Homo sapiens: one gene and its partners. The protein of the gene in region 4 purifies or fractionates together with the protein of the main gene of each other region. This does not show direct contact. Each region holds a gene or a part of one and is shown on either strand. Other genes may lie near its edges. The genes, in order: DNAJB12, PNKD, SCO1 and EYA2.

Region 1 (6,067 bases), on a different chromosome or scaffold from region 4:
TGCTAGAGTTCATTTAATACTACTTTAATTGCTATTTCTTTCAGTGTATTTGGTTTTACTCTGCTTTTTGCTTTTATGAATCCAACTTATGAATCCATTTTTTTCTACTGAACTCATTCAAATCTGCAAATATGTTTGCATTGCACCACATTTTGAATAAGTAAAATATTCAGTCCACTGCACTACTCCCTATTTTTACCATTGGTTTTTTTTTTTTTTCTTTTTTGAGACGGAGTCTCACTCTGTTGCCCAGGCTGGAGTGCAATGGCATGATCTCAGCTCACTGCAACCTCTGCCTCCCGGTTTCAAGCGATTCTCCCGCCTCAGCCTCCTAAGTAGCTGGAATTACAGGTGCACACCACCACGCCGGCTAATTGTATTTTTAATAGAGATGAGGTTTCACCATGTTGGCCAGGCTGGTTTCGAACTCCTGACCTCAAGTGATCCGCCTGCCTTGGCCTCCCAAAGTGCTGGGATTACAGGCATGAGCCACTGTGCCCAGTCAACCCTTCAGATTTTTAAGATCTCAAAGTAGTGAGTTTAACAGACTTGGCATGTTGAGTGCCAAGCTGGGAAAAGTACCCTGCAAAGGGGACCCCGCTTAGCAGGACCCTCTGTTTCAGGTGGGATCAGTCAGGAAGCCTTCCTGGAGGCCTTTGCTTAGCTGTAAAGAGGAATGGGGGAAATGAGTTTGCCCAAGGGGGACACAGATGGTAGGAGACCAAAAGAAGTATCTGCTGTGCTCACAACTTGCTATTTTTCACATTTTTCTAATGCAAGTGGTTGGCCATGCCAAATGTCCTCTTCAATGTCTGGAGTCTATACAGGACATTAACTATCACCCTCGGCAGCATCATGGCTATTGAAAACCAAGCCCGGCTGGGCGCTGTGGCTCACGCCTGTAATCCCAACACTTTGGGAGGCCGAGGCGGGCGAATCACAAGGTCAGGAGTTCAAGACCAGCCTGGCCAACATGGTGAAACCCCGTCTCTACTAAAATACAAAAATTAGCCGAACATGGTGGTGGGCGCTTGTAATCCCAGCTACTAGGGAGGCTGAGGCAGCAGGATGGCTTGAATCTGGGAGGCGGAGGTTGCAATGAGCCGAAATCATGCCATTGCACTCCAGCCTGGGCAATAGAATGAGACTCTGTCTCAGAAAAACAAAAACAAAAACAACCAAGCCCACCAGGCATGGTGGCTCACACCTGTAATCCCAGCACTCTGGGAGGCTGAGGCGGGCAGATCGCCTGAGGTCAGGAGTTTGAGACCAGCCTGGCCAGCATGGTGAAACCCCGTCTCTACTAAAAATACAAAAATTAGCCGGCGTGGTGGCAGGCGCCTGTAATCCCAGCTACTCGGGAGGCTGAGGCACAGAATCGCTTGAACCCGGGAGGCAGAGGTTGCAGTGAACTGAGATTGTGCCACTGCACTCCAGCCTGGGCAACAGAGCAAGACTCCATCTCAAAAAAACAAAAGCAAGCAAAAACAAGCCTGTGGTTCCTGCAGATTAAATGAGGAAGGGCCCAAGTCTCTGGCAGCAGGTCCCTGTGTCCATTTATTCCAGGCACGAAACCTCAGTCAGGCCTGGGCCCCAGCGCCCTGGGTAGTAAAATCCTAAAGCCTCTGACAAGCTGACCAGCTGGGAAAACAGGCATCTGGATCACTGCAGGGACCCAGCATCCCTCTGTGCTAAGGAAGGACAGCAGCACATCCCAGCACATTCCTTCAAACACGCCAGGTGCCTGCTGGCCTGAAGACGCCATGCTGGGTGCCACACCCACCAGTGCGACCCACTGAGGTCTGACCCAACAGGCTGAGAGCCAGTCTCACTGGGAACAGAGTATGGGGCTCCAGTGGAGCACTGTGCCCTGGGCCACTGCTGCCGCACTCCGAGCTTGTGTGATCTTGCTGAGTCTTCAACTGGGAAATCCAAACACAGGAGCTCACAGCTGGGGTTGCTCTGAGTAAGGGAGGCGGGCTCCTGTAGCAAACCCTGAGAGGGTGCTTGGGGAGGAACAATAGCAACAATCATTTTTCTTACCCAGTGATGTGTGTCAGGTGGGTACTTTCACAGTGATCTGCATTAGCTCATTTAATTGTCACAGCAGCCTTAGAAGGAAGGTCTCATTACCTACCCCACCCCACTGTAGGAAGAGGGTACTGTGGCAGACTGCTGCCATGACCACACAGCTGGTTAGGAGGCAGAGGGGCCTTCGAACCCCAGGATGTCCAGCTCCAGGGTCCATGCTCTTAACTACGCTGCTATCCTGGGCTGCACGTGTCTGATGGGGTGGGGATCGGGGACAGGGATGCAAGCAAAAGCATAGAAGAGACATCAAATTCAGAAAGGCCCAGATTCAAATCTCAGCTCTGCCATTCCTAGCAGTGTGACCCTGGCTGATCTATGAAATCTCTCTGAACCCTGGTTTCGTCACGGTGGCGGAGGATGAAATGGGATAATGTGTGTAAGCACCTGTGCCGAGTCTGACAGAGAGTGAAGGTTCAAGGCTGATGAAGTGTCTGGCCACAGAAGTGGGCTGGCCAGGGAAGTGAGGGAACCTGTGGTGGGGGCTGGGGAGGAGGAGGGCTGGGTAGCGGGGGAGCTCCAAGGCTCAGGAAGGCAAAGACTCAGCGCTCAGCAGACTCTGGAACCAGTAGTAACCATGAGATTTCAGGCCATCCCAGATACCAGGTCCATGCCAGCTACCAAGGGGATGGCAAGAGAAACCGAAAGATGAAGAGATATTGGTCAAGGCGGGGCAGGAGGAGGAGGCAGTATGCTGTTTCCTAGAGCTTTTCAAGAAGCTCTTTATTATTTCAGTTCCTCTGGAAGTTCTGGTGGCCCAGGCTGAGCCTGGCAGATCCTAAGGGCAAAATAACCAGTTATTCAACTACCAGAGATGAGCAGGAGCACTAGCCAGGAGATGGGACAGGCTCTCTCTTGTACCTCTCAGAGAAGATTCTGGAAGCTTTTCAGGGCAGTTACAGGGAATCAGCCACTCTAATTTCCCTACAGTACAGAAAGAGAGCCCAAAGGAGAATGGGGGTGCCCTGGGTCACATAGAAGCTTTCTGCTTGAGTTGGAAATTAAAGATTTCCAGTTGCTGGCAAGTAGGGTCTCTCTTCTGGCCTGGGGGATGTGACAGCTTCATGCTTACATCCCTCATGGCACAGAGGCTGACAGGCAATGTCACAAAAAGAGACAGAACAGCTTAATGTTACCTTCTCAGTAAAGCTGGCAGACTTAGAAAAGGAAGGGAATTCGATAGAAGAGAACAGAGCTGCGGTGGAGAGGCACCTGAGGTAGAGCTGAGAGGATTTCTATGGCCAAAGCCACTGAACCCAGACTAGAGTTAGATTTGGCCGGGCAGTGGCTCACACCTGTCATCTCAGCACTTTAGGAGGCCAAGGCAGGAGAATGGATTGAGCTCAGGAGTTCGAGACCAGCCTTGGCAACACAGGAAGACCCTGTCTCTACGAAAATAAAAAAATTAGCCAGGTGTGGTGGCACATGCCTGTGGTCCCGGCTGTTTGGTAGGCTAAGGTGGGAGGATCACTTGGGCCTGGGTGGTTGAGGCTGCAGTGAGCTGTGATTGTGCCACTGCACTCCAGCCTGGGCAACAGAGTGAGACCCTGTCTCAAAAAAAAAAAAAAAAAAAAAAAAAAAAAGACTGCCCGATGGGTTCAAACCTAGCTCTGCCATTTGCTAGAAGGGTCATCTTGGACAAGGTAACTTAGCTCATCTGTGCAAAACTCTATCTCCATCATACAGGCTAAAAGAGGAAATGAGTGAATGCCAGCAAAAAACTCAGCCCAATGCCCAGCAAATATACAGTGTTGTCTCTGACCGTGACTTTGTTAGTAAGTGAGTAGCTGAGTTTCTGGGCTCTGTGTACCTACGGTGCTCACAGTGAGTCAGAAAAGGGCCTGGGATTGGAGATGGACAGCTCTGGGTCTTTGCTGGCTAGCCATGTGGCCTTGCCAGGTTAGCTGGTTCCTGAGTGGAGAGACGATCTCTGCTCTCATAGGAGTGCTCTGAGGGGTAAATAAGATTCTGTGAAATACAGTGAATGGAAGGGGGCTAAGTGCACAGTGGGGCTCATGAAGGTTGACTGACTTGAAGGGTACAACCCCACCCCGGACCTCGCCAGCACCAGAACATCTCTCACTCCTGGACTCTGAATGCAGAATCCCTCAGCAATCCGTCTCCTTTTCCTGTGGGCTGGCCTTCCCAGCTTGGCCTTCATGACTTAGCCCAGAGTCAACCATTTCACAGAACATTGGATAGCCTGAGCTGCAAGGAACCTCAGGATCATCCCAGCCAATCCTCTCTTTGTATGCTGGGGAAACTGAGGCCTACAAATGCTCTCGTGAGCTCCCTGGGAAATCTGGCACCTTCCACATTTGTTACAAAGCCTGAGTCAAAGCCAATGGCTTACCAGGCTGCCAGCTACTGGACAGAAACTCCCAGAAAGGGACTGACTGGCTCCACCATCTCTAGTCTGTGACCTCCCAGCTTAGGGCCCAGCTACTGCTTTGCAGTTTAACTCAGTGCCTCCTTGTCCCACCTCCTGCAGCAGGAGTTTCAAGCCCCCTCACATCCCTTTTTGCTGCAAAGGCCAACAGTGTGAGGTCCCTCATCCTTTCAAGGTTGCTCTGAGCCTCCCCTCTCTCGTGACTCTCCCCTCTCTGCCCTTCCACCTCTCCAAGACCATCCTCTGCCCATGCTCTCGATCCTTCCCTTTTCAACTCTTAACTTGTCCTTTTCCCATGCAGTGCCTGCGGCATCACACAGGGCTGCTCACCACCTGCTGCCATTACCTCTCCATGGCTACCTGGCCGCTGCCCTCTCCGGGGACTGCCTTTTCCTGTTGCTCCATCTCAATCTGTTGCTTCCTCTGCCTTTGCCTGTGGGCTCAGGGCAGGTGTTGCCTGCCATTGTGCCTGCAGCAACTTTCTCTCCATGGTCTATACTTTCCCACAGTGACCTCAGCCATGCACAACTCCAGTGAGCTCCAGGGAACAGACGATACCACACTTTCACCTGTAACCTGGAGCGCTCTCCTGAGTTCCAGGCTGACAGCTCCTTTGGACTATCCCACTGGCACCTCCCACTCTGCTCATCTCTTCCCATCTCAGTTCTTCAGCCTGGTTTCTTCCTGGTCACAGGGGCTTCAATTCTGATTCCCCAGCATCCCATCTGATTCTCCTCTGCACCTCTCTCTCACACAGGCCTGGTGCCTCTTTTCCAGGGACCTTAGCCTTATCCATGACTGCCTTGTCCCAGGCCCTCAGAATATCCAACCAGCTCAAGGCAATTCTCTCCTATTGGCTTCCTGCCCTGAAGCTCTCTTCCCTCTCATTAACCTTTCATGCTGTTCTCTTTTAACAACAGTGCCCGTACTTTATTCCTGCTATCAAAAACCTCAATGGTTTCCTCACTAACTACAGAATAAGGTGAAAATATCTTGGCCTGGTAGAAAAGGATTTCTATGATCTGGCCCCATTTTATTTCCCAAACTTAATCCTCTCTGTATACGAATTACCACCTCCACTGCCTCTAAATCTTGCTACACTTTGATCTCTTCCCCCAAACGTTACAACTTTCAGCTCCTTTGTCTTCTTCCAGGATGCCTTTCCTCAAGTCTCACACCGTCCTCCAAAGCACAATTCAAATGTTAACTCCTGTCATCCCCAAAGCATTCCCTCACTGTGAGATAACATTATTTTTATGCACTTGCTACAGCACTCACTAAACTGCTGATAATTTAATGTTCAGGAGATTGTCCTCCGCACCTCCTCCCCACCATCAGACTGTGAACCCATGGATGATGGGGCCTGATTTTTTCATGCCTGTCCTTAAGTCCTCAGCGTCTAACCTTGGGTTTATTTTTTGTTTAATTACAGTTCTGTCTTGTAATATTTGTTTCTGTAAGTTTTGTCTCTTTCACTAGATTATAAGCTCTTTTGAGGTGAGGGATCACATTTTACCAATCTTGCTAGCACCAAGCAGAGGACTTTGCAAACAAAACATAAATGATCTTCAACAAAAGTCTGCTGCATTG
Region 2 (6,067 bases), on a different chromosome or scaffold from region 4:
ATGGGCAGTGCCAGTCTTCAGATAGGCTGGGATTGGGCCAGGAAGGGCACTGGCAAAGATCCACCTGCTGATACCCCTGAAACACTTCACTGAAGGCTGGGGGTGGGGGAAAGGGCCCATGGAAGGGCCATCCCTTGCCTAGGTCAGGGACTTACTGGGTGAGGTAGGGGATGCCGTCCTGAGGGCTCCCGTACACCCGACAGTCCCGGTGCCGCCGGCTGAGGTCACGGTTCCCTCCACTGTGGTCCCTGCAGGACAGCAGAGACAGGCAGGGGGCTTCGAGGGGCAACTGTACCTAAGCCCCCTTCTTTACCACAGCATCTCCAGGCCTTTAAGTGCTGGGGCTGTGGCTTCTGGACTAAGCCAAGTTGTCCACACCTCTAGGCCTTTGTTCAAGCTGTTCCCTTGCCCAGAACATCGCCCCCAACAACTCAAGCTGGCCAATGCCAGCCGAGCTTCCTGAACCCTCAGCTCAGGTCATCATCTTTCAATTCTCCAAGTGGATCTGATCACACCGTGCCTGGGCCTCCCATCCCTGTTCCCTGTGCCAACTGTTACCTAAATATCACATACTTCTTTTTTGAAGACAAGGTCTCACTATGTTGCCCAGGTTGGGCTTGAACTCCCAACCCTCTTGCCTCCGCTGTTATATACTTTGATACAGGGCTACCTCCCCTATTGGTCTTAGAATTTCCTTGATGGAAGAGTCATAACTTTTGTCCATGCCCAGTGTGCAGTAGGTATCTAATACATGCCCATGAAATGAAAGAGAAATGACTGCCCTGCCCTCTGGGGCTTCAGAAGCTTGATCAATGGAGTGGTGGGAGACTGTCCCCTCTCCTCCCTCCCTGCTGGTGTCCAGGTGACTTCACGAGGAAGGCGGGTGCCGGCCCGTACTGACTTCTTGATCTCTGGCCCCGGCCGTCCTCAATGGGCCCAGTCCTGGCAAGCCCAGCTGGGACAAGGGTGGGCCAGGGAAGACGGGAGCCCCTTACCAGTGCTTGTGAGTACACAGAATGGCGACCAAGGTGACCCCTTCCTTTTCAATGGAAGCCTGCGAGAGAGAGGAGGTTTGGAGACTGGGGAGCAGGATGCAAGAGGCACTTGAAGCAGCAAGAGCCAGGAGTGTGGGCGCTGGTGGAGAGGAGAGGAGAGCATGGAGAGATGAAGCAGAGGAAAGGGATGGAGCTGGAGGGGAGAGATCCAGGAATGTGAAGCACGGGGCACATGGAGGCAGAGGGACACTTGTACATAGAGAGAGGCAGACACAGAGAGATAAGGAATGGGAGGGAAAGACAGAGAGACCCAGATACTGACAGACAGAGGTGACAGAAAGAAAGGGGGTCTGAAGGGGGCCAATGGGAGTGAAAGCCAGCCTGGAAACTCACTAGACCCAGAGTCCTGGGCCAACACCCCCAGCCCTCTGGCTCTGCATCCCCCACTCCTGCTCTCCCCTTCTGCCCAGCCATGCCCTGTACCCCCCTTCCCCAGGCTATGTGTGCGCATGTGCACGTGTGAACATGGAGCATATGGGACACATCCCACGGGCAGACGGACAAGGGTCAGCCCTCTCTAGCAAGGCGAAACTGCCAGTCCCCAAGGTGACTCCAGGCACCCCCTGCTCCCTGCCCTCCCCTCACCTGCACAGCCCGAGGGTCTGAAGGGTCCACAGCCACAGCCAGCTGGGCCTGGGTGTCGATGATGAGGTAGCTGTAGTTGTCCGAGAGGACAGGGATGGGAAGCACCTTCACTCCTGGGGACAGAGATGGGCTGTGGGCGGGGTAACAGGCAGGGAGCCCAGGGGCTGGGGTATGTGAAGGGGAGCAGGCGGGGAGGGTGGGGGCACAGAATGGGGGATGCTGGCCGGGGCAGTCAGAGCTCACCATTGAAGAGGCGGGGCTGGGTTTTCGAGTGGCCTTTAGGGTAGCGATTCCGAGCCCTGCGCAGCTGCTGTCGGTAGAAGAGGTACCCGAGCCAGGTGCGGGTGTACAGGCTGTACCTAGAGGGCGAGTGGGTGGCCTATGATTAGCCTTTTCTCCCTAGCTCCCCTAGACTCCTTCGTGATGCCTGCAGGCCCCACATCTCCATTCCTTTGGTGACCCTGTGAGCCAATGCAATTCCACTCTCACTTATTATGTGCCTACTGTTTGCCCTGCTTAGCACTCAGGACAAGATGGAGAATGAGACGGACACACCTAGAACTCAAAATCTATCAGGGAGACATGAACTGAGGAACTCACAGAAGAAAATTGGAGAGGCCAGGCGCAGTGGCTCACACCTGTAATCCCAGAACTTTGGGAGGCCGAGGTGGGCGGATCACCTGAGGTCAGGAGTTCGAGACCAGCCTGACTAACATGGCGAAACCCTGTCTCTACTAAAAATACAAAACTTAGTCGGGTGTGGTGGCACACGCTTGTAGTCCCAGCTACTCAGGAGGCTGAGGCAGGAGAATTGGGCATCGCACCACTGCACTGCAGCCCAGGCCAAAGAGTGAGACTCTGTCTAAAAAAAAAGAGAGACTTGGAGAGTGAGGGGTTTAATCTAGCCCAGGGTCTAGCACCTCTGATGAAGTGACATTTGCAGGGAAGAAGGAGTAGGAATTAGGAGGCTGAAATGAGGTAGAAAAAATATTTCAGAAAGAACAGTGGTGGTCAGACTTTAGCATGCATCCTAATCATCTGAAGAAGGTTGGGTACAGTGGCTCACACCTGTAATCCCAGCACCTTGGGAGGGAAGGAGAGAGGATCACTTGAGCCCAGGAGTTCGAGACCAGCCTGGGCAACATTGTGCCCTATAGGGTCTCTACACACACAAAAAAAAGAATAGCTGGGCGTGGTGGCACACGCCTGTGGTCCCAGCTACTCAGGTAGCTGAGGCAGGAGGATTGCTTGAGCCCGGGAGGGTGAAGCTGCAGTAAGCCATGATTGCACCACTGTACTCCAGCCTGGGTGACAAAACAAGACCCTGTCTCAAAAAAAAAAAAAAAAAAATCATCTGAGGCTGGGTGTGGTGTCTCACGCCTGTAATCCCAGCACTTTGGGAGGCCGAGGCAGGTGGATCATCTGAGGTCAGGAGTTCAAGACCAGCCTGACTAACATGGTGAAACCCCGTCTCTACTAAAAATACAAAAATTAGCCGGGTGTGGTGATGGGCACCTGTAATCCCAATTATCTTTTTTGTAGAGATGGGGTCTCAGTTTGTTGTCTAGGCTGGTCTCGAACTCCTGGGCTCAACAAATCCTCCTGCCTTGGCCTCCCAAAGTGTTAGGATTACAGGTGTGAGCCACCGTGTCCCACCTGAAATTCTTTTTTTTTTTTTTTTGAGACAGAGTCTCGCTCTGTTGCCCAGACTGGAGTGCAGTGGTGCAATCTCGGCTCACTGCAACCTCCACCTCCCAGGTTCAAGTGATTCTCCTGCCTCAGCCTCCCGAGTAGCTGGGATTACAGGCTCACACCACCATGCCCGGCAATTTTTTGTATTTTTAGTAGAGACAGGGTTTTGCCACGTTGGCCAGGCTGGTCTCAAACTCCTGACCTTAGGTGATCCGCCTGCCTCGGCCTTTCAAAGTGCTGGGATTACAGGTGTGAGCCACTGTGCCTGGCCAAGCCTGAAATTTTTGTTTGTTTGTTTGTTTTTGAGAGGGAGTCTCACTCTGTCGTCAGGCAGGGGTGCAGTGGTGCAATCTCAGCTCACTGCAACCTCTGCCTCCCAGGTTCAGGCGATTCTCCTGCCTCAGCCTCCTGAGTAGCTGGGACTAGAGGCGTGCACCACCACACCCAGCTAATTTTTGTATTTTTAATAGAGATGGGGTTTCACCATGTGGGCCAGGATGGTCTCGATCTCTTGACCTCGTGATTTGCCCACCTTGGCCTCCCAAAGTGCTGGGATTACAGGGGTGAGCCACCGTGCCCGACCCTGAAATTCTTAATGATTTTATCTTTGACCTTGTGTCTTGCAAGTGGAGCCTGATAGGACAGTGGGACATGCAGGGAGCAAGAGACACACACAGTGAGTGTGCTCCGTTCCTCGCTTATCATACCTATACAGAGTCTGCAATGCCCATGAGCACACAAATCTGGGGGACACACAACGCATGGGAGTTCAACAAGACTCAAAGCAAGTACAAGGCGAGTGCACACCTATGACTGACCCAAGAGGCCAAGCTTTCAGTTCAAACTAGAACGTGCTTCAAGTGCACAAAGACAGAGGTGTTCTAAGAAACACGAATGACCAAGGAACTCTGCTGCATCCTTTCTTGCTTTTGTGTTATCCACCTATTTATGCTGCAAATAGCGATATAGAAAGGAAAGGGAAGATAGGGTAACCAATCCATCCTTTTCCTTTCCATCCTTCCTTATTAACTAGCAAGCCAACAGTGCTGGCAGAATGTGCACGTATTAAGAATTGAAGGCCGGGCGCGGTGGCTCATGCCTGTAATCTCAGAACTTTGGGAGGCCAAGGCAGGTGGATCACATGGTCAGGAGTTCAAGACCAGCCTGGCCAAGATAGTGAAACCCCATCTCTACTAAAACTACAAAAATTAGCTGGGCGTGGTGGCAGGCGCCTGTAATCCTAGCTACTTGGGAGGCTGAGGTTGTAGTAAGCCGAGATCTCACCACTGCACTCCAGCCTGGGCGACAGAGTGAGACTCCATCTCAATAAAAAAAAAGAAAAGAATTGAAGGCTGGGTGCAGTGGCACACACCTGTAATCCCAGCTCTTTGGAAGGCAGAGGCTGGTAGATCACTTGAGGTCAGGAATTGGAGACCAGCCTGGCCAACATGGTAAAACCCCATCTCTGCTAAAAATACAAAAATTAACAGGGTGTGGTGGTGGGCGCCTGTAATCCCAGCTACTTGGGAGGCTGAGGCAGGAGAATCACTTGAACCTGGGAGGCGGAGGTTGCGGTGAGCCAAGAAGATCACACCATTGCACTCCAGCCTGGGCAACAAGAGTGAAACTCTGTCTGAAAAAAAAAAAAAAAAAAAAAAAAAGAATTGAAGGCCAGGTGTGGTGACTCACTCCTGTAATCCCAGCACTTTCGGAGGTGGTGATGGAAGAAGTGCTTGAGCCCAGGATTTTGAGACCAGACTGGGCAACATGGCGAGACCCTGTCTCTACTAAAAATGCAAAAATTAGGCAGGCATGGTGGCATGCACTTGTGGTCCCAGCTACTTGGGAGGCTGAGGTGGGAGGATCACTTGAACCCAGGAGGTCAAGGCTGCAGTGAGCCATGTTTGCACCACTGCACTCCAGTCTGAGTGACAGAGGAGACCCTCTCCTGGTAAGAACTAAATACACATCCATGTATAAGCTAAGAAATATTAATTATGTCGTTTCTGTGATTCTACAGGAGTTAAATGTCCTTATATTTGTATTTAAAACAGGCATTGCACAATATTAAGCAAATGGTAAAATTCCTGCTAATAATTTAAATGCTTCTTACTTAGAATGACATTAAATAGCAAATTAAAAACATCACAGGTCAAAATAGAGATTGTAGAAGAAAAAAAGCTTCATATTTTAGTACTTTTAATGGCTATTTTTTCCAAACTTTTTTTTTTTTTTTGAGATGGAGTCTCACTCTGTCACCGTGCTGGAGTGCAGTGGCACGATCTTGGCTCACTGCAACCTCTGCCTCCCGGGTTCAAGTGATTCTCTTGCCTCAGCCTCCCGAGTAGCTGGGATTACAGGCACCCACCACCACGCCTGGCTAATTTTTGTACTTTTAGTAGAGACAGGGTTTCACCATGTTGGCCAAGATGGTCTCAATCTCTTGACCTCATGATCAACCCGCCTTGGCCTCCCAAAGTGCTGGGATTACAGACATGAGCCACCACGCCTGGCTGACCCTAAGTCTCTACAAGGATTGACCGTGTATGTGGGAGCAGGGGCAGCCGCTCTTCAGACCCCTAAGGGGAGAGCTAGCTGATTTGTCTGCAAGCAGTTGGGTCAAAACCAAGCAGGTTTCCATGGCAATTTGTAGATATGATTTAGGTAAAGTTTAATCACTGCATTGTCTGCTCTATGTACCCATGGGTTTATATTGATTGGCAATCTGGGCACAT
Region 3 (6,067 bases), on a different chromosome or scaffold from region 4:
CTGGCAATCATTTGCCACTGCAATATTATTAGGCCTGTGTTGAAGACTTAAGTCAGGAGAAAACTGACATATTTACATTGAGTCTTCTCACCAAGGAACAAACTATTTTCTTAATTAATAGCTCATCATTTTTTCCAAAATTTTATAATTTTCTTCCCCTGGATCTGAGTCATTATTACATTGATTCTATTTATTATAGATTCTGTGTGGTTATTGTGAATTTAGTAATTTTTAAATACAGTAGGCATTGATTTTTGCATATTTACAACTGGATGCTGAGTAGATACATAAAACACTCAAAAGAGAGTTGAAGTTTAGGTGCACTAGTTGGCACTTTGGGGCCTCATGTCTAAAAGCTGCCCTAATTTTTCTTTTTTTTCTTTTTTTTTTTTTTTGAGATGGAGTCTTGCCCTGTTGCCAGGCTGGAGTGCAGTGGCATGACCTCAGCTCAGTGCAATCTCTGCCTCCCGGGTTCAAGCGATTCTCCTGCCTCAGCCTCCTGAGTAGCTGGGACTACAGGCGCCCGCCACCACGTCTAGCTGATTTTTGTAATTTTAGTAGAGATGGGGTTTCACCATGTTGGCCAGGATGATCTCGATCTCTTGATCTCGTGATCTGCCTTTTCTTTATCTTGTCTGGTTATGTGCATCCCAGAGGCACTCTCCAGGGCCTACTTTTTATATCCCTCGTACTCAGCTTAACATAGGTATTCCGCAATGTTGACGTCGTCAATCAATCAGTGAATGACTGTCTTGTGCTGTGATCCCGCACGTTCCCGACAGGGCTTTCTGAATGTACGGGGCTGAGGCTGGTACAGGGAAAAGTGAGCCATACAAAGGCCTGCCCTGCTTCGGGCACTGAACGCTTGCCTGTCTCCGTTAGGAATGGAATGTAATCCTTGCAGGGCTCTCTGCCCCACTTTCTTCTGTAACTAAGACGGCCTTAGCAGAGCCTGGGCTGACAGGGAAGCAGGCAGTTAGTCTCTCAGTCTATTGCATCAGTGGTTCTCAGCAGCCTACTGCACTAGGGCCAACAGAGATCAAATGATCCTCAATCAGGTTTCAATTGAGTATTTGAGAATGCCTACATGGAAAGACTGCACTGAGCCCCGATAAGGCCCCACAGGGTAACCAAGCAGCATCTCTCCCTGCTTTTTGATCATATTATAACAACTCGATGGAGAAACGCTTGGTATACTGTGCTGAATAGAAGTTCTGACAGGGAGTGACAGTCGTCTTTGACAAAAATTTCAAAAGTGGGGCAATTAAATAATTATCAGAAAATGGAATTTGTTTATTTGAGAGACTCTTCAAATTGTGTTTCATGGGAGCGAAATTAAATAAAGAGCTTCCTGGAGGGGGAAAGATTACTTAATTCATTATTCTTTCTTGACTTTTTCCCCTTCCCTATTGGGTAAAAATTAATAGACTCTGTGGTATTGGGGGTTGAGGAGAATCCATGTGCCTAAGACTGAGGTGGGGATCTTGTTAAAATACAGACTGTGGGCCAGGCGTGGTGGCTCACATCTGTAATCCCCAGTACTTTGGGAGGCCAAGGCGGGTGGATCACCTGAGGTCAGGAGTTCAAGACCAGCCTGGCCAACATGGCGAGATCCTGTTTCTACTAAAAATACAAAAATTACCATGCACGCCACCGGGCATGGTGGCGGGCGCCTGTAATCCCAGCTACTTGGGAGGCTGAGGCAGCAGAATCACTTGAACCAGGGAGGTGGAGGTTGCAGTGAGCCAAGATCGCACCACTGCTCTCCAGCCTAGGCAACAAGAGCGAAACTCCATCTCAAAACAAACAAACAAACAAACAAAAAAACAGACTGTGATTGAGGAGAGCTGGAGTGGAGCCTGAGAAGCTGCATTTCTGCTAAGTACCCCAGTGGTGTGACACTGCCGGACCACAGACTACACTGAGTAGCAAGGCTGTAGAGGGAGTCTGAGTATTAGCTTTGCTACAAACTTGTAGATAATTCACCACTTGGGCCCTTCTTCCTCTATACAGTGAGGACATACCAGATGGTGTGTGACACGTCTGACATTGTGATGGCGAAACCACCTCAAGGTCCTCACGAAACCTTGGTGGCCAAGGCCCTTGGTATGACCTCTTGAGACCAGGAGGCTCTCACAGGCATCTACAGAGCTCAGCCTTGGCCCCTTACCTTTGCATCATCCTTGAATGGAAAAAGGATCACGGGCTGCCAACTGCAGACCCACCCAGGAATACTTCAGATGGCTCAAACACAGTGGTAATGTCCCTGGCTTACTCCATCAAAATGCAGTGAGCATCATCAGAGTGGTCCGGAGCTTGACTGACAACGACCAGCTGCTGCTCACCACAGCAGCCAACAAGGAATGTGCCCACTCTCCCCTTCAGTTTGCTCCTCCTCAGTGTCAGGGTCCCAGGGCCCTAGAAGTCTCTAAAAGCCACTGAGCAAACTTCTTTGCCTCTCAAAGCTGTGGCAACTTTAGGTCCGTCCTCCAGCTTAGGGGTGACTAGAGCGATTGATTTCCTGCCCCTTCAACTGAGGGTGAGAAGACACTGTCTCTGGGGCCTAAGTGTGGCTACTCTGCTCTGCCACACCACACCTGAGGCCCACTCTCCTACCATCTGCCTCCTGCTGTTGCTGAAGCTTGCTGACACTTTCTCCACGCTGTCTTCTTTCAGGCCTTCTCTCGCCTGGGCAACCTGATGCTGGCATTAGCTTTTATCTCTCTGCCCAAGCTACAGCAAATTGCTGAGAGCTGTCCAATGCATTCTCCACATCACAGACTTGCTTTCTTTCAAGACTGCCTTTTGCAGGGACTCTTTTTCCCCTCTACTTTTCTTTTGGAGTTATAGGGTGCAAACAGTAAAAGGCATAAATCTTAAGTTCAAAGTTTAATATGTTTTTATGTATGTAAATCATCACCCAGATCAAGCTACTGAACATTTCAATGGCTCTGGAAGCTCTCCTGGCACCCCCTTCTGAATTACTAACCATCTCACCTCCTGCCAGAGTTAAGCACTATTCTGACTTTTAACACGATGGGTTAGTTTTCCCTGTTCTCCTAGTATCATACTTCATCCTAACACAATTATTCCTGTTTTACAAATTTAAAGAAAAAAAACACCCAACAACGAGGACAAATGCGTTAGTCTTTTTAAACTGGTCCAACCTGAATAACGCCACCCTATGTTTAAGAATGGGAAGAGAGGCTTGGCGGGGAGGGTTGTCTTTCCCTAGGGTTGTGTCTTCCTTGAACTGGGTGCAAACATGGACAAAGTCACATGTATGACATGGAGACAACACATCCCCACAACGAACTGCATCATAGCTCCTTGAAATCAAAGGACCAAATTATAAACGAGTTTACACTGACTGGATATTTGATATTAAGCAAAAACCAAACGACAAAATCCAAGAGCAAAAACAAAAACCTTTTTGCTGTGCTGATGAAACTGTGGTTGTTTTTTTCTTTCTTTCTTTTTTGTTTTTTGAGACAACTCTTGTTGCCCAGGCTGGAGTGCAGTGGCGTGATCTCGGCTCACTGCAACCTCCGCCTCCCAGATTCACACGATTCTCCTACCTCAGCCTCCCGAGTAGCTGGGATTACAGGCACCCGCCACCACGCCCGGCTAACTTTGGTATTTTTAGTAGAGACGGGTTTCTCCATGTTGGTCAGGCCAGTCTCGAACTCTCAACCTCAGGTGATCCACCCGCCTTTGCTTCCCAAAGTACTGGGATTACAGGCATGAGCCACCGTGCCCAGCCAACTGTGGTTGTTTTTAAAGGACAAAGTTGGTCTCTTTCAGAGGCACATGCTGGGAATGGGCTGGGGTGGCAGTGGGTGGGGGGGTGCAGACAAAATTAAATGGTGGTAATCACTGAAGCTTGCTGATGGGTACATCAATTAGTTAACTATTCTACTTTTTGAATAAGTTTCCAAATTTTCACAATAAAAAGGAAAAAAAGAAAACTCAAGTTTTCTTTCGGTTAAATACCCACATCAATGTTCTCATGAAATAGTGCACAGAGTCAGTGACTTTAAGGCCCCTTATGAGGGGGACATTAGCATCCTCATGTTGAAGATTGAAAGGAAATACCTCCAAGTATTATTTCTTGGTAGTGGAACAACAGTGATTGAAAATTTTCTTCCTTCAACTTTTCTGTATGCCAAACTTTCTTTACTGAGGATATAGTATAATTACGGAAGAAGAGCCAACAAACTTTCAAATACATTGGAAAAGTATATAGAAAATAATTACCCCTATAAGGTCTAAAGGTGTTATTAAGGAATATGTGGCTAAAGAGGCTATTACTTGAATCTTGTTAATGAATAGAAATAACCGTCCATTTTGTTACACAGTAATATAACCCCTAACTGGTAAGTAAAAAGCACAAACTAGGCCGGGCGCAGTGGCTCACGCGTGTAATCCCAGCACTTTGGGAGGCCAAGGCGGGCGGATCACCTGAGGTTGAGAGTTCGAGACCAGCCTGACCAACATGGAGAAACCCGTCTCTACTAAAAATACAAAAATTTAGCTGGGTGTGCTGGTGGGCGCCTGTAATCCCAGCTACTCGGGAGACTCAGGCTGGAGAATCGCTTGAACCTGGGAGGCGGAGGTTGCAGTGAGCCAAGATTATGCCATTATTGCATTCCAGCCTGCGTGAGAAGAGCGAGACTCCATCTCAAAAAGAAACAAATAACAACAACAAAATAAAAACCAAAAAAAAGTACAAACTAATTGGGTAACAAATGCTCGCATGGGTGACTGCTCTTTTAAAGGTAGCTCATATACACATACACAAAGATTTAAATGGTACTAAACAGAAAACCAAAAAAGGTTTGGGAGATTATGGATGATTTGAAAATATTAATGTCAATTTCTTTTAAACATAAATTTAAGAACAATAAAAGCTATTTTAAAGGATCTTATGCAGACGCATTTACAATTTAAAATCATTAGCCTCCCAACTCGCATATTTTACTGGTAGTCAGTAAATCTCACCTCTTACACTTAAGATATCAGCTGCTTCATGAACAGCCAGACACATGAATACATTCATGCCTACTGCATTGATAGGATTCTTATACTTTTCAAATAAACAAGTGGCATTTCTTAAAATATTAATTCTATTGAAGAGTCTAGTGAAAACACTGTAACCCACCCAGGTAAAGATTTGCAAGGGATATTTCACTGAAACACAGCCTTGAGGCCGGGCGTGGTGGCTCACACCTGTAATCCCAGCACTTTGGGAGGCCGAGGCGGCGGATCACCTGAGGTCGGGAGTTTGAGACCAGTCTGACCAACATAGAGAAACCCAGTCTCTACTAAAAATACAAAATTAGCCGGGTGTGGTGGCACATGCTTGTAATCCCAGCTACTTGGGAGGCTGAGGCAGGAGAATTGCTTGAACCTGGGAGGTGGAGGTTGCAGTGAGCTGAGATTGCGCCATTGCACTCCAGCCTGGGCAACAAGAGTGAAACTCTGTCTCAAAAAAGAAAAGAAAAAAAAAACAGCCTTGCTTTTGATTTCCCAAGATTTGCAGCTGAAAAACGTTGCCCCACTGGCATACGGAACCTCCGTTTTGGTTGGATTCACACAGTCACCATAAGCGCACGATAGCAGCAGAACAAACAGGAACCTACCTAGAAATTGGGACCCGAGTTTTGCGCCTTAATTCTCCGAGACTGTCCCCTTGTGCATAAACAGGAACATCTGGAAGACGTCACCTCTAAGGTCCCCTTCCCCACTTCTAACATTCTGACTTCAAGCCTTTAAACTTGACACTAGAATGAAGAACAAATAAAAGTTTTCTCCAAAAGCTGCTGTTCCCTTTTTGGATCATTTCACAAGCCTTAACCTGCAACAGCTGAGAACGAAGACTGAATCTTATCTAAGAGCAAACTTGCTGCAAAGGGATCCACACAAATGTTTTGTGGCTTAAAACAGATAATCTTTTTAAAGATTTGGCCTTTGAGATACTTAATATCTCTTTTGTTAAATGAGAATAGTCTTTTAGTAAGTTCCTTTCTTGACCAGATTCCTAGGAAAGTCATTCTAAACCAACTGC
Region 4 (6,067 bases):
TCATCAGATTCGTGTTTCTGAAACTTCCCTCATGAACTCTGCCATGGCTGTGTGCCACTTTTGCTATCAATTACTTGATGGACTTGGTTTTTAAATCATTTTTGTCTTAAGCAGTAAAAAATTGTAAAACCATTTGTTTCAAATGCTTTTTATATCTTTTCCAAATGCATAATAAGATAGAGACAGAACTCTAAAGAAAAAAAATGTCCATGTACATTTCAAGTTAATGTGGAAAGGGTGCCCACATCATTAAAAAGAAGTCTGCCCTTCAGAGACTAACAGATTCTTCCAGAATGTCTAAAGTCCCCAAACGGTAGCTACCTGAAGAACAGTAAGGAATGTGCCTGGGGCAAGTAACTTTCATTTTCTCCCCTTTCTTTGAGTACTCCTGGGAATGGGTCCAATTCCACAGTACCCTAAGTATTCCACTGTCATTTTATTTAAGTCGTATAACAAATCCTATATAGAAGGTGTCTGCTCCATGGGCTGATGAGGAGATTGGGGCTCAGAGGGCTCTTGTGATCTGCCCGAAGACACACAGCAGGTTGGTGATAGAGGGGACCCCATACCCTCTCCAGGAGCTGCCCAGCCTCAGACAACTCTGTCTCATGGTCCCACACCATAGCCAAGGGCCTGGCCTGGTCTGAGGAGGAAGTCACTTCATTCCGGTTGGCAAGAAATGGCAGGGATTCTTGAAGGATTTCATCCAGAAAAGGATTTTGCAACCCACTTACGTTACTTTTTCCATGTGCTGTTCAAGAAAAAATCTACTGGTTCTCAATGGAATGTGGGGTAAAAGGCCACAGCAACTCAGGCTCATTGAGGATGAAGGATGCTATTGAAATGTAAGAATAGATCATAAATAACTGGTTGGTCAGGGGAGTCTCTCCAGTCCACCATGATTGTTTGTGACCTTGTTCCAGGAGGGCTGTGGGTCATGTGGTACAACAGGCCCATGCTTTGGGTCACACAGACCTGGAATGGAATGCCGCTGGGCAGTCACTCGATCTGTCCAAGTCTCAGTTTCCATGTTTGTTAAATGGACACATGTATATCATGTATTTTTTTTTTTTGAGAGGATTAAATGAGCTTTGTGAAAGTGTCTGTCACATAATAACTCCTGTGAGCCATTTTTATGTCTCCTTCTTCCCTCCTCCATTCTCCTCCCTGAATAGACTTTTTTTTAATTTATAACTCTCAGAGGCATACCTGTATACTTTAATTTTTCAAAGTCCCAGAACTCAGGGCAAGTTTCATTCATTAGGTAACAGCAGAAGATTAAAACATCCATGGGGAGAGCTAACCGTTCAGACTCCCACCACCACTTTATGCAGTAGGAGGACTGTCTCTATTTTGTGAATAGGGAAACTGAGGCAGAACTAGGACTTGAACCTAGGAATTTGGGCTCCCCATTCTGGATTCCCAGTGATACAATCCGCCATCTGTAAAACCTGGTGAAGACTACAATGTTACAACTTAGATTAGGTTTGCTCATATAGCATATCAGATCTGGAAGGTTCTGAGTGGGCACCATTCAAAGCCAGGGTTGGGAGGGGCCGTGCGTCTTTGGCAGGATCGAGTAGCAGGAGAAAAATGAGAAATATTTTGTTTTTCTTTTCCAATTCATTAAGGCTTGTTGAGGGGAGCAAGAACCTCATTTTTTTCCTTCCCATTACTTCCCTTTTATTTTAGGGGAAACATGCATTTCAAAGACTGCTCAATAGCAGCGTTGAAGTCTCAAGTTCAATCACAATGTCCCCATTGTGGCTGGGGGACTCCCTGGCCTTTAAGCTTGGGTTATAAAAATTTGGTCTGAGCCCAAAGTCTGGCTTTAATAGAATATTTTAATTTTGTGTAATGAATATTATTTTAAATCTGTTTGGCAGTTTTAAAATGTGTTCTTTTATTTTCAAATTAAAATTTACTAATGTTCAGTGCTTTCTTGGGGGTGGGGGTACAGCAAGAAATGGGGGTGGTAATAATACAAGCTACCATTTATTGAGTGCTTACTATGTGCCAAACACCCTGCTCTGTGCTCGGTGTGCCAGCCACTCTTTTAAGCCTCCCAACCACCCCAGGAACAGTTAACTGCTGTCTCCGATGTCTGGGACGTTGAGAGGGTCAGACCCCTGCTGGAGATGGCAGTCCGTGAGTGATGGACTGACTCAGGCTCAGGCCAGATCTGTCTGAGTCCAGGGCCTGTGCTATCGACCACTGCCCAACATTCTCTCGATACCTAAAATGACTCAACTGATCAATAGCTTATAGACACCGCACTGATCCAGTGCACTGTTCCCCATAATCTCAATAGCTAGCTCATTGAACATTGAATGGAGGCAGGCAGTGTAGCAAAGCTAAGTGTTTTCCATGTATCGCCTCATTTATATTCTCACAATGGCACTATGAAAAGTTATTTTATTATTGTTGTTACTATTATTATTATCATCCCAAAGAGTCTAAGTAATTTGCTTCAGGTCAAATTCATAAATAATAATAATAACTGTAGCTGACACTGATATAATTCATACCACTTGCCAGCCGTAGTTCCAAACACTTCATGTTTATTAACTCAATCTCCACGATAGCTTTCTGAGGAAGGTGCATTATTATTCACCCTGCTTTACAGACGAAGAAACTGAGGCACCGAAAAGTCTGGTAACTTACCCCCAAGTTAAACGCAGGAGTAGGTTAACACTGAGGGGAAGTGTAACCTGAGCAGCCTGGCTCCTGGACTCAAGCTCTTAATCTCGAGGCTGAAAGTCAGTACCCAGGCTGAGGTTTGGAAAGTCTGATTCTCTACATTCCTCCTCATTCTGCACAACGCATTGAGGGAAGCAGAGAGTTGCTGTCGGCCGAGTAAGCCTGGGGCACTGGTAAGTCCTATATGCCTAGTGCGGTTTCAGGTGCAGAAGCCGAGGCACTGCTCTTACTGAACCAGGCATAGCTTCTGTGGGTGAGGGTCTACAGACTGAGGTGTTGCTTCCATTCTGCTGCTCAAACATTAGAAAGCTCAAAAAGTCATGTCAACACCCTCTGCACCCTCAGGAAAGAAGAGGCCATGGGATACTGGTGAGAACACATTGGGATCCTCCTACCGGAGATGCTGGATTTGGTCCTTCTCACCTCTGGCTCTCCAGTAAACAGCCCAGAACACAGCTAAATAAGTGTTGTTAAGTAAATGGATGAAGGAATGAAGTCACTTGTAATTTTCCCCTATCACTGTGCAATGTGTCAAGCACATTGGAGGCACCTGATAAATAATAAATCATTGAAATGGTATACGAAATGTCCCAAGTGCATGTTATTTCTGGTCTACAAGGATTGTCTTGTCATATTGCAATAGCTTAGAGGTCAGCAAACTTTTTCTGTAAAGGGCCAGATAGTCTTTGCAGGCCGTATGGTCTTTGTAGTACGGCTGTTCAACCCTGCGGTTATAGGGCAAGAGCAGCTGTAAGCAATGACTTAGGCCACTAACTGCAGTGATGCTACGACCATTTCCATAGGTCCAGCTTGAAACATTCATTCATTTCTACAAGGGCAGATTCAAAATCTTGTGAGAATCTGCTGGCGTCTCTTACTTTCTCAACCTGATTTTTGTACCTAACCATCGATAAATATCCATAAGGCAATGCAAGTGGAAAAGGACTTTAAAATCTAGCTCTCCAGGGCAGACAGATGGAGAAAGGGAAGTTCTTGTTATACCACGGGAGCAGGCTGGACATCCTAGTGGTTAGGAATCAAAACTGGGTTTAATCCTGGCTCTGGCATAAGCCATGTGATCCTGGACAAGTTACTCTCCAGACTCAGTTTCCACATCTGTAAAATAGAAATAATAATAACAGCACGTTCCATCTACTGCCATTTGGAGACAAAACATATAAAGTATTTCCACAGCACAATGCCTGGGACATAATAAATATTCAATAAATAATAAGTGTTCAATAAAACCTGTGATTCCCAAACAAGTCTTACAACTCTGTGTTTTCTTAAAAACAAAAGAAAATCCCCAAAACTAATTCACTAAAAATAAGCACAAAGGAATGACAGCAAGGCTACAGGAAGACATTTCCAAAATCGGGTCCCAAGGTGTTAGAAAAATTGTCCACTCTAGATCAAACCTCTAGCAAACCCCCAACCTCTCTGTGCTTCCCCCTCAAAAAAAGCCTGATTCTATGTCCTTTTATCAGTTTGTCTTTCTTGTGGGTGCCTGAGCAATGCTGAGACATTTTGAGCGTTTTAGACATTTGCTGAGTTTAAGGCATTCTTTCTCCCCTCCTACCGGTCTTCTCTCCACACCCCAGCCATTAACTCCTCCAGGGAGTATGGTCTGTTTAGCAAGAGGAGAGCACTGGACAGCTTGGGCCCATCGCAGACCGGAGGTGAATCATCTTCGGGGCTCCATTCTTTTTCATGTCTGGACGGGGCTAAAACTCTGTTGACAACACAGGCACAAGTCACAACTTGTTATACCACGTGACACCTTCCGAGCAGCGGAGGCTTCCCTCTACTCTAGGAGTCACACAAAAGGCCAAAGGTGCACGATTCTCCTCGGGGCTCCTTCCTCTCCGCTCCCTTCCCAACCAAGAAGGACACGCAGAACTTTGCTGGAGAGATCAATGTTTCTAGAACACCCTGAAACAAAAGTCCTGATATGTGCAAATAATACACACCCACAAAAGAAAATAACCTCTTTGCGCTGACACCCTGCCTCTCCGAAGAGGACGTTTTCTCCCTACTTGGAATTTCCATCAGCACCTGGGTTGGTACCAAACTCAGGACGTGGTGGACACGCTCTCTGACTCTGTATTTCAGGAAGCTGCCAATCAATAGAGATTTAAAGGTGAGTACTTATACCTTGCATCTTAAATGCTAGAAAACATAGTGGGAACAAAAAATTGTTTTGGAAACCATGAATACCTTAACCACAAAGTGACTATAGGAAGGGAATGGGAGGTGAAGAAACTGACCAGAAGGAACATTTTCATTTCATTTTATTTTCAGCTTCTGACTTCCGCATATCCGAATACCAGGTAGGAAACATCTGCTTTGGAGTAAGAGAAGGCCCCAGTACCTGCTTTTTCTCCGGAACCGTGAGAGGGAGCCATGGGGAGGAGACCAGAATTTCAGCCTTCCTATCTCCCTTTACCACAAGGACGCCTTGAGGACCCAAGTCAAATTGAGATCTTTCAACCACGGGCTCGGAAACCCGCTTTCTGTGTCCACTTCAACCAAACACGTCTAACAGGCAGGAATTTAGAGGTGGCCAAGGTAACGAGAACTAGTGGTTTTCACCCTGTTTGGTGACCTTCATAGGGCTTATTTATGCACTTCAAGCGCATGACCTAATACATGTTGGTTTGGCTTCTCTTCTCGTAATAGCAGCCTGTAAAAAGCTTTTGAGAATTCCCCGTGTTTTCTCATTTTGGGTCAAGAAAATAAAATCGATATCTAAGTAACCTTAAAAAAATGGCCTGCACAATCTAAAAATTTGGAATGTTTCCACTAGGACTAAGGATATCTCTGAAAGCCTCAAAGATCATCAAAATGAAGTCCAACATTTGCTGTTTTTAAGGTGAGATATTTGGTAACGGAGTATGAGAGAACTGGCTAAGGGGGCTTTTTGACATAAGTCAAACAATGACATTTAAAACTCACGTAAAAGCAATTACTGTGTGGAATTTTTCTGTGTTTTTCTCATTTCTTAAACAGAAGTGTATATGTTTTCAGCATAGCTTCTTGCTGTAATTTTCTTTCTTGACAAACCCACATCTTACCATGAAACCCAAAGTATGCATGCTGCAGAAACAATAATGGTTGAAACAGACCCGGCTGTCTCTGGCATGATTTTTCTTTACAAAATTAAAATGTCTTTTGGCTAATACACGTGTATTTCAGTTATGAAAGGCCATTCTTGGGAGATGAATAGAAAAGAAAGGGGAACTGACAGATTTAGCTGACGCGAGACAAAAGTAAGTTGCCATATACAGTAGTCAAACCCTCCAGTTCCTCATTCTTTGGGGAAAAATATGTTGATTTTATCATTTTTCCTTTAGTTACATTAGCAGAG

Evidence for each region.
Region 1: the proteins of EYA2 (region 4) and DNAJB12 purify together in Homo sapiens (affinity purification with mass spectrometry, with the first as the bait; one large-scale study listed by BioGRID). This does not show direct contact.
Region 2: the proteins of EYA2 (region 4) and PNKD purify together in Homo sapiens (affinity purification with mass spectrometry, with the first as the bait; one large-scale study listed by BioGRID). This does not show direct contact.
Region 3: the proteins of EYA2 (region 4) and SCO1 purify together in Homo sapiens (affinity purification with mass spectrometry, with the first as the bait; one large-scale study listed by BioGRID). This does not show direct contact.

What each region holds. Positions count from the first base shown.
Region 1 is NC_000010.11:72,346,757-72,352,823, forward strand, and holds part of DNAJB12 (dnaJ homolog subfamily B member 12), read right to left. Parts: intron 1-6,067. UniProt on the Homo sapiens protein: Acts as a co-chaperone with HSPA8/Hsc70; required to promote protein folding and trafficking, prevent aggregation of client proteins, and promote unfolded proteins to endoplasmic reticulum-associated degradation (ERAD) pathway.
Region 2 is NC_000002.12:218,335,715-218,341,781, reverse strand, and holds part of PNKD (probable thioesterase PNKD isoform 1 precursor), read right to left. Parts: intron 2,000-6,067; coding exon 1,884-1,999; intron 1,754-1,883; coding exon 1,641-1,753; intron 1,055-1,640; coding exon 996-1,054; intron 249-995; coding exon 156-248; intron 1-155. UniProt on the Homo sapiens protein: Probable thioesterase that may play a role in cellular detoxification processes; it likely acts on a yet-unknown alpha-hydroxythioester substrate.
Region 3 is NC_000017.11:10,672,628-10,678,694, forward strand, and holds part of SCO1 (protein SCO1 homolog, mitochondrial), read right to left. Parts: 3' UTR 1-6,067. UniProt on the Homo sapiens protein: Copper metallochaperone essential for the maturation of cytochrome c oxidase subunit II (MT-CO2/COX2). Not required for the synthesis of MT-CO2/COX2 but plays a crucial role in stabilizing MT-CO2/COX2 during its subsequent maturation.
Region 4 is NC_000020.11:46,900,200-46,906,266, reverse strand, and holds part of EYA2 (protein phosphatase EYA2), read right to left. Parts: intron 5,880-6,067; exon of another isoform or gene 5,002-5,879; intron 4,841-5,001; exon of another isoform or gene 4,519-4,840; intron 1-4,518. UniProt on the Homo sapiens protein: Functions both as protein phosphatase and as transcriptional coactivator for SIX1, and probably also for SIX2, SIX4 and SIX5.